Regions from separate parts of the Homo sapiens genome. Here region 2 is linked to region 1. The links come from fine-mapping of genetic effects on gene expression. A gene starts in region 1. The other region holds a variant in brackets. All regions are shown on one strand. Distances are between the middles of the regions. Region 1 holds the start of MPZL3 (myelin protein zero like 3). Region 2 overlaps JAML (junction adhesion molecule like).

Evidence for each region. PIP is the estimated chance that this variant, and not a neighbour inherited with it, causes the effect.
Region 2: its variant is the best candidate, but not a certain one, in a credible set for the expression of MPZL3 in whole blood (INTERVAL, PIP 0.61).

What each region holds. Positions count from the first base shown.
Region 1 is chr11:118,249,924-118,254,322 of GRCh38, reverse strand. MPZL3 (myelin protein zero like 3) reads left to right here and starts at 1,958. Exons shown (of 6, transcript NM_198275.3): 1 at 1,958-2,101. The coding sequence starts at 2,029. MPZL2 (myelin protein zero like 2) reads left to right here. Exons shown (of 6, transcript NM_005797.4): 6 at 1-907. RefSeq lists enhancers at 1,516-2,076, 2,426-2,475, 2,077-2,638.
Region 2 is chr11:118,220,136-118,224,534 of GRCh38, reverse strand. The region is part of intron 1 of JAML (junction adhesion molecule like); the gene reads left to right. Among named protein-coding and RNA genes, the nearest start is that of JAML, 2.7 kb to the left of the region's middle. The variant G/A (reference allele first, on the strand shown) is at 1,703.

The DNA.
Region 1 (4,399 bases):
TGGTGAAAAAAATCAACTCTAAATGATGATAATTTTGTACAGTTTTATATAAAACTCTGAGAACTAGAAGAAATTATTAACTTTTTTTCTTTTTTAATTCTAATTCACTTGTTTATTTTGGGGGAGGAAGACTTTGGTATGGAGCAAAGAAATACCAAAACTACTTTAAATGGAATAAAACCAACTTTATTCTTTTTTTCCCCCATACTGGTAGATAAAGCAAACTTTATAAGTGGGCTATTGAAAGAAAAGTTACAAGCTTAAGATACAGAAGCATTTGTTCAAAGGATAGAAAGCATCTAAAAGTTTAGGCTCAAGATCAATCTTTACAGATTGATATTTTCAGTTTTTAATCGACTGGACTGCAGATGTTTTTTCTTTTAACAAACTGGAATTTTCAAACAGATTATCTGTATTTAAATGTATAGACCTTGATATTTTTCCAATACTATTTTTTAAAAAATTGTATGATTTACATATGAACCTCAGTTCTGAAATTCATTACATATCTGTCTCATTCTGCCTTTTATACTGTCTAAAAAAGCAAAGTTTTAAAGTGCAATTTTAAAACTGTAAATTACATCTGAAGGCTATATATCCTTTAATCACATTTTATATTTTTTCTTCACAATTCTAACCTTTGAAAATATTATAACTGGATATTTCTTCAAACAGATGTCCTGGATGATGGTCCATAAGAATAATGAAGAAGTAGTTAAAAATGTATGGACAGTTTTTCCGGCAAAATTTGTAGCTTATGTCTTGGCTAAATAGTCAAGGGGTAATATGGGCCTGTTGTTTAGTGTCTCCTTCCTAAAGAGCACTTTTGTATTGTAATTTATTTTTTATTATGCTTTAAACACTATGTAAATAAACCTTTAGTAATAAAGAATTATCAGTTATATAATTTGTGTATATACATATCTAGAAGTTCTACATTGCAGGAAAAACAGATGGATATATATTTAATCTTTACCAAAAAGTTTTCTTAGTAGAGACAACCTGCAAGTCAATAATGGATACAGTTAGTTTCTAATGGGTAAACAGAAGTATACGGATTTCCACAGAATTTTCACACTGTTTTGGATAGCTGGGAATTGGGCATAACAACACTACTTAGTTTGAGGGCTCTTTCAAAGAAAAGTATCAAAGATTCTATTTAGTACTTTGCATTACACTTTTAATAGGGAAAACTACTGGCTTTCAAGTCTAGTAAAGGAATGGAAATTGAAAAATGGAAACTTATTAATTCTTCCCCAAAGCGAAAGCATACTTTTATTCTCCTCCTGCTTTCATTGACATGTGGCAATTTCCAGGGAAGAGGCTTACTGATTATTAAAGCAGTGTACTTATTGTACCATCTCTTTTTCAGAAGTATGTGACGCCATCTCACTTCAAGTACTGTGATAACATAACTTTCTTACTTTTCCAACCAAAGACACAGAAATCCCAGTTCCTCTTTTCCTCTAATACAGGCTGTAATGATTTGATCATCATTGCCACCGCCAAAAGTAATTTAATAAACACCCAATTTTGGAGGCTGCAATACTTACACTAAAAAGGACACCAACCAATGAGGCTTGTGGCACATATCACTACAAGCACCTAATATATATTTATCTATACTGTATGATCTCCCAGGTGTTTCTGAACTCTAAATTTACAGTAGTGTATTCTGAGAACCTTCAACTAAATCTCGAGACGTAAAAACGATGTCTGACATGCAGTCAGAGCATCAAAATTATTTAGTTCTGCAGAATTCCATAAAAACAAAATTGTAATTATTCCAAGTCCGTAGCCTACTTCATTTTCAAGCAAAAGAGAGCATTTAGCTCCCGCCTGAAAGTTAATAAATCTCTGGTCAGTGAAACCAGGTGTGGTTCTGGAAAGAAGCCAGGTTCCTATGGTAACTTCGGATCGCCATTTAAGTTGTCTCTCGGCCTCCTGCTCTGACGTCACTTCCGGTGTTACCTGTGTCGTTACCGGGAGCTGTAAACAAGGTGTGCAAGCATCTGAAGAGCTGCCGGGATGCAGCAGAGAGGAGCAGCTGGAAGCCGTGGCTGCGCTCTCTTCCCTCTGCTGGGCGTCCTGTTCTTCCAGGGTGAGTGCTCCGGCTGGCTACGCTCCACTTCCGGCCGGGGGGTTAGGGAAGATGGTCGCTTTTCCGGTTCCGGGTAGGGGGGTCTCCAGAAAGCCCCCGCATAGCTCTGGGAAGGAAGGAGGGAGGGAGCGGGACGTTGGGACGATGTCATCACCACCCCGTTGAGGATAGTTGGTATTTTGTCAGTCCTTTCCTGAGCTTTGGGAGCTTTTTCACCTTGCGTGACCTGTCATTGTAGTTTGGTGATAGCATACTTGATGGAACCACAAAGAGCTCTGGCTTTGGGGGCACCCGGTGTTATTTTGTGGTGTTATTATCAGTGGTTGACCGCTGTCGTTTGGGCGCTGTATACCCTGATTAGAAAGAAAACAGTTCTAGCATTCAGTAGTTTGCCCCAGTAGTTTTGGGAAACAAAATCATGACAGTTGGTAATTTTATTTTTTGTAGGTGATTATTGTAGTCTATAAAATGAAATATTTGCTAGTCACAGAAGGGATGTGATGTGATTCGTTATAGAGAAGCATATCGATGAAAAAGTAACTGCTTTAGCATTTTCATAACTTTTTTTAATACAAGAAAGAGCATATAAATTCTGTTAAAATTTATTAAGTAATATCAGAAGTAGGGTATTCACACTGACATTCACATCTTAAAATTAGGTGAGTTTTGCTTTCATATAATTTTCAAATTGCATAAATTTCAATCCAGCCTAATTACCTTCATCTTAAGGTACAATTATTTCCTGGATTTTGTGTATGTGTGTCTTCCTGGGAAATAAAATATTAGTATATCTAGTATTAGAGTGAATTGCTAAATTTATAAAATTTCCTTGAGGGTAATGGGGATTTCTGAAAGAGATATTTAATATTATATAAATATAAATAGTTTAATATAAAGACTTCAGATGTCCTAAATCTTAGCAGTTAAGGCTGGAAAGTTTTTAACTGGTGACTAATATTCATGTTGCCAGCACACCCCCGATCCCTCCCAGCTGCCTGTGTCATCATAAGTCTCCAGTTTTTAAGCTAAATTACTTTGCAGTATGATATTTAGGCTGGCCTACTGTCACTCCTAATAAACCCAGTCCTCTCTCTCTCTCTTTCACACACACACACACACACACACACACACACACACACACACGAGAAATATTCAAATATTGTCTTATTGAGAAAAAAAATCTGGAAATGGTGTTTTCTTAAATCTAATGTCATTTTGCTTTGAAGAGCATCTGTCAAGTCCAGCAGACCATATAATTCAATCAAACATTTAAAGTTGATTTTACAATCTCTATGTACTTGTGGAATAGATTTTTTGCCTTTTAAAAAATAACTGGTGGCAGGGTGTGGTGGTTCTTGCCTGTAATCCCAGCACTTTGGGAGACCGAGGCAGCTGGATCACCTGAGGTCAGGAGTTCGAGACCAGGCTGACCAACATAGTGAAACTCCGTCTCTACTAAAAAATACAAAAAAAATTAGCCAGGCGTGGTGGCGGGCGCCTGTAATCCCAGCTACTCGGGAGGCTGAGACAGGAGAATCGCTTGAACCCAGGAGGCAGAGGTTGCAGTGAGCTGAGATCTCGCCATTGCACTCTAGCCTGGGCGACAAGAGAGAAACTCCGTCTCAAAAAACAAAAACAAAAACAAACAAAAAAGAAACAACTGGTTTATCATATTATTCACATGCCATACAATTTACTGTCTTAAAGGGCATAATTGAATGGTTTTTAGTATATTCACAGTTATGCAATAATTACCACTATCAATTTTAGAACATTTTCATCACCCCAAAGAGAAACTTGATACCCATTAACAATCACTCCTCACTCTCCATTTCCCTTAGCCCCTGGCAACCACCAGTCTATTTTTTTGTATCTATTGATTTGCCTATTCTGGACATTTCATATAAATAGAATAATATCTGTAATCCTAGCACTTTGGGAGGCCGAGGTGGGTGGATCATTTGAGGTCAGAAGTTTGAGACCAGCCTGGCCAACGTGGTAAAACCCTATCTCTACCAAAAAATACAAAAAAAAAAAAAAAAAAAAAAAAAAATTAGCCAGGTGTGGTGACATGCCCCTGTTATCCCAGATTCTTGAGAGGCTGAGGCAGAAGAATCACTTGAACCTGGGAGGTCGGAGTTGCAGTGATCTGGGATTGCACCACTGCACTTCAGCCTGAGCGATGGAATGAGATCCTGCCTCAATAAATAAATAAATAAATAAATAAAAATAAAGTAAATGGAATTACACAATATGTGCTTTTGGTGACTGGCTTTTTTCACTTTGCATGTTTTCAAG
Region 2 (4,399 bases), 30 kb after region 1:
TGTGTATTTAAGGTATACAACATGATGTTGTGGGATGCATGTAGATAGTAAAAAGTTTACTATGGTGAAGCAGATTAATATATCCATCATTTTACATAGTTATACCACTGTTTTTCTTCTCCCCATTATAGACAAACCAATATTTAACCTTTAGAAGCCCGAGACTTAAATCTCCCAAGAAAGCTAGGCTACTGTCCATGCTTGTTACACCCTCAGCACAGCCCTGACCTTGGGAAAGGCTGATGCAGGATGGTTTAGGTATAACCTACTCTGGAGAAGAGAGCAGGAGTAAGGACCTCCAGGGTCCCATTCGCGTAGAGCATTAACCGATGTGACCTAGACTGTGTTACAGAAGCCACGTGACCTACCAGTCTGTATTCAATGGCTTAACAATGGAAAATGAGGGCATATTTTAAGACGCATGGCTTAGAGTGGTTATATGGACTTGTAGACCTAAAAACATCTGAGAGCCTAGAAGTGCACAGCAGTGTGCAGATAGATTGAGAGGACTTGGCTCTGCAGGTGGACAACACTCTGTGAGTAAAAGAAGGCTGTGCAGTTGTCCGTTTGCTCAGTGGTTAGTTGTCCTTACTAGGGACAAACACTGAGAGACAGCAGCTCTCCCTTATTTTGTCTCATGATATTGTAATTTGGGGGGTAACTTTCACATCTTGTATGGTAGTCTCATTGTAGCATGTCTCTTTTCTGAAGATTTCTTTTCTGTAATATAAAGGGGTATGGATTTTTTGGAGGGAGGGGGTGCCACTTGTTCTCATTACCCAACAGGATATGGAGGAGAGTTGCTCAGAGAAGATTAGTATAGAGTCACTACAAGTCATTTAGGTAGCCAAAATGATAACTCCAAAATTTCTAAAAGGCAAAAATCTTTACTTGCTGATAGAGGGGAGAGTCAACTTTCCAAGCAGGTCGCAATAAAGACAGCATGATGCCAACCGAATCTATTTCCTCTCTCCTCCTTTTTCTGTTGTTTATTAAAAGGTAAACAAAAATCTCATTATTTTAAAATATTATGCAAAAATCTTGTTTATGAGAGAAAGCAAAATTTCACCTTTGCATTAGTATATTATTAATGTTAGATCCAATTCTTAATAAAACCTTATAAACAAATCTATACAATCATAGTTTGACCATAAGGTAAAACGTCCACAAACCTCTCATAATTCTTTACAATTTTCTGTTAAACAAATAAATTCTCTAGAAAACCATTATTCAGACACATGGGCCCGGATTCTGGCCCTACATCAGTGTGCTTTTATTTCAGTGTTCGACCTATGGAAAAACTAAGTAATCCCCTTTAAATCTTAGCCAACCTGCTTATACCCACAGAACTTTTCATGAGATTAACCCTTCACAAACCCTTTTCAACTTGCTTAAACCATCAGTTTTGTCACATTACTCTTTTTTTTTTTTTTTTTTTTTGAGACAGAGTCTCACTCTGTCACCTAGGCTGGCATGCAGTGGCACAATCTCGACTCTCTGCAACCTCCGCCTCCCGAGTTCAAGTGATTCTCCTGCCTCAGCCTCCCAAGTAGCTGGGATTACAGGCGCTCACCACCACACCTGATTAATTTTTGTATTTTTAGTAGAGACGGGGTTTTGCCATGTTGGCCAGGCTGGTCTGGAACTCCTAACCTCAAGTGATCTCCCCACCTCAGCCTCCCAAAGTTCTGGGATGACAGGC[G/A]TGAGCCACCATGCCCAGCTGTCCCATTACTCTTTTAGGTGAGGCCAATAGTTAAAACCCTCTGAGCTAGACAAAATTACGTTCTCTTTAACAGAAACCATATTCACACGCCTTCTTATAACCTCCCACCAAAACACATTCTTTACTTACACTGTCTTTATTTTTTATGTTATTTACACTGTCTTTATGTTTAAAAATCATTAGAGTCACGTGACCTAAAAGAGATTAAAGTTTCAATTTTTTCTGATAAAATGTTTGATTTTAGTTTCTTTAAGCCAATTAATTAGAGCTCTTTTATATAAATACTATACATACAACACATATAAATACACAGACAGACAGAAATGGAAAATCAAGACAAAATTCCATTGACTGAGAAGTTCTTAGAGGGAAAGCAGGGGCTTTTTGTTTGTTTAGATGGAGTCTCGCTCTGTCGCCAGGTTGGAATGCAGTGGTGCGATCACAACTCGCTGCAGCCTCAGCCTCCTGGGCTCAAGTGATCCTCCCACTTCAGCCTCCTGAGTAGCTAGGACTACAGGTGCCTGCCACTACATCCAGCTAATTTTTGTATTTTTTTTTTGTTCAGATGGTGTTTCACCAAGTTGCTCAGGCTGGTCTCAAACTCCTGGGCTCAAGCGATCTGTCCACCTTGGCCTCTCAAAGTGCTAGGATTATAGGCATAAGCCACTGTGCCTGGCCAGCAGGGGCTTTTAAAACAATATCTGTATACATACAGCCCAAATATCGTCTTTAATTAAGTTGATTTCTGACTATGGAGTTCTCAAAATAAAAATCCTATAAAAATCTTTTATTACCAGATTTTAGCCAGGACAAATGGCCAATATTTCTGGCTTTTGAATCTTTACCTAAAGGTAACCTCCTATGTGAAATTAATAAACCTTAAGTAAGGGGATAACTTAAACAGGGACACACAAGGTGTCTCCAAAGAGATGGTAAGCAATTTACAAGATCTAGAATTGCCCCAAAGGTAACTCAGAGAAAAGAAAATTTCAAGACAGGAAATTAGGAGCTCTCCATGGAGGGGAAAAGAATCAATAAATGATTAAACCACAAAAGACTCACTTTTGGAGCCAGGAATTGAACCCAGGGCACCACTGTGAGAGGGCAAAGCTTTAGCAGTTGAGCTACAGCAGGGGTCCCCAACCCCTGGGCAGTAGACTGGCACTGGTCCATGGCCTGTTGGGAACCGAACCGCTCAGCAGGAGGTAAGTCGGGGGCAGACAAGCAAGCATTACTGCCTGAGCTCTGCCTCCTTTCAGATCAGCGAGGGTATTAGATTCTCACGGGAGCATGAACCCTATGGTGAACTGCACATGCAAGGGATCTAGGTTTCATGCTTCTTAGGAGAATCTAATTCCTGGTGATCTGAGGTGGAACAGTTTCATCCCCAAATCATCACCCACCCTCCCTGGTCTGTGGAAAAATTGTCTTCCATGAAAAAATTGTTTTCCATGGGGAAAAATTGTCCCCGGTGCCAAAAAGATTGGGGACCAGTGAACTATAGTGCAAGATAACTGCTGTTGTTTTTTTCCGGGAGGAGTTTAGAGCATTTCAAGCTTGCAAAGGATTTTAACTGCTCAAGAGAACTTTCTAGGACTAGCCATGTAATTATTACGCATGCTTCTTTTAATTTTGCCTTTTCCTTTTAATGGTGTACTCAGTTCCAATGGTGACTGAATCTAAAAGCCTGTTAAACTCCAGATAGTGATTTTCCAGATTTTTACCATATAAGCAAAAGGTATTTCCAGAAAGGGGTAGAGGAGGCATCTCTATGACAGGGAGCTCTTGAACTCAAGGGGAAATTGATAATTTTACTTGCCACCTCCAGAGTCACCCTTGGCTTTGTTTTGCTGTGATTTGGAATTCAGCGGGGGCAGAGAGCCCACTTCATTTTAAGGCCATCAGGGGCTAGAATTCTGTCCTCAGGGTCTTTCAGCCCTCAGGACAGTCCCATTTTCAGCAGCTGAGCTTGTGGCAGAGGGTACAAGCTGTGCGGGGCTTTTTCCCATGTATCCCATTGGGGCAGTTTGCCTTCCAGTGGCCTGGCCATCTGCACTGAGGGCACTTACCTGGAGGAGTGTCCTTAGGGCAACCTGGAGGGAGCTGAGGGCTTCTAAATCAGCCAACAATTGAGCCTGCCTTTCTTCCCTGCATTTTTCTTTCTCCTTAGCCCTGGCCTCCTTATTCTGCTCTTGGTTATAAAAGATCGAGGAGGCCAAGTTGAGGATTCTTTGCATAGGGACCACGCTGTATTACACAAGAAAAGTAGATGTTTCTTTTTGAGAGTCTGAGGGTTAAATTTGTCTCAATGTTTTAGGATGCAATGCAGAGGTGAGTCTGAAGGAACAGATGGGATTTGTCCCATGGTGGGACTGGAAAATGATGAGCCAACCTCTGGGGGCTAATGTCCGCTGGGGACACAAACTGCTTTCTCTTGAGGCTTCTCGCTGAGGAAAAGCGTTCCACTCTCATCCACTGATGGACTTGGGTGCACTTTCTAAAGGGCATCCCAGCTATCAGAAAGACTTCTCTGCACTGGGGCCTTGCACCGGATAATCGGTTCAGGTATGAGGAGAGGGGAGGTGAATGGGGAGACTCACTGCTCTGAGGTTGCTTGAGCTCACCTAGTTTGGGAACATCCAGAGCAGGAGGTTTGCCTGTCTTCATGGGGAGAAT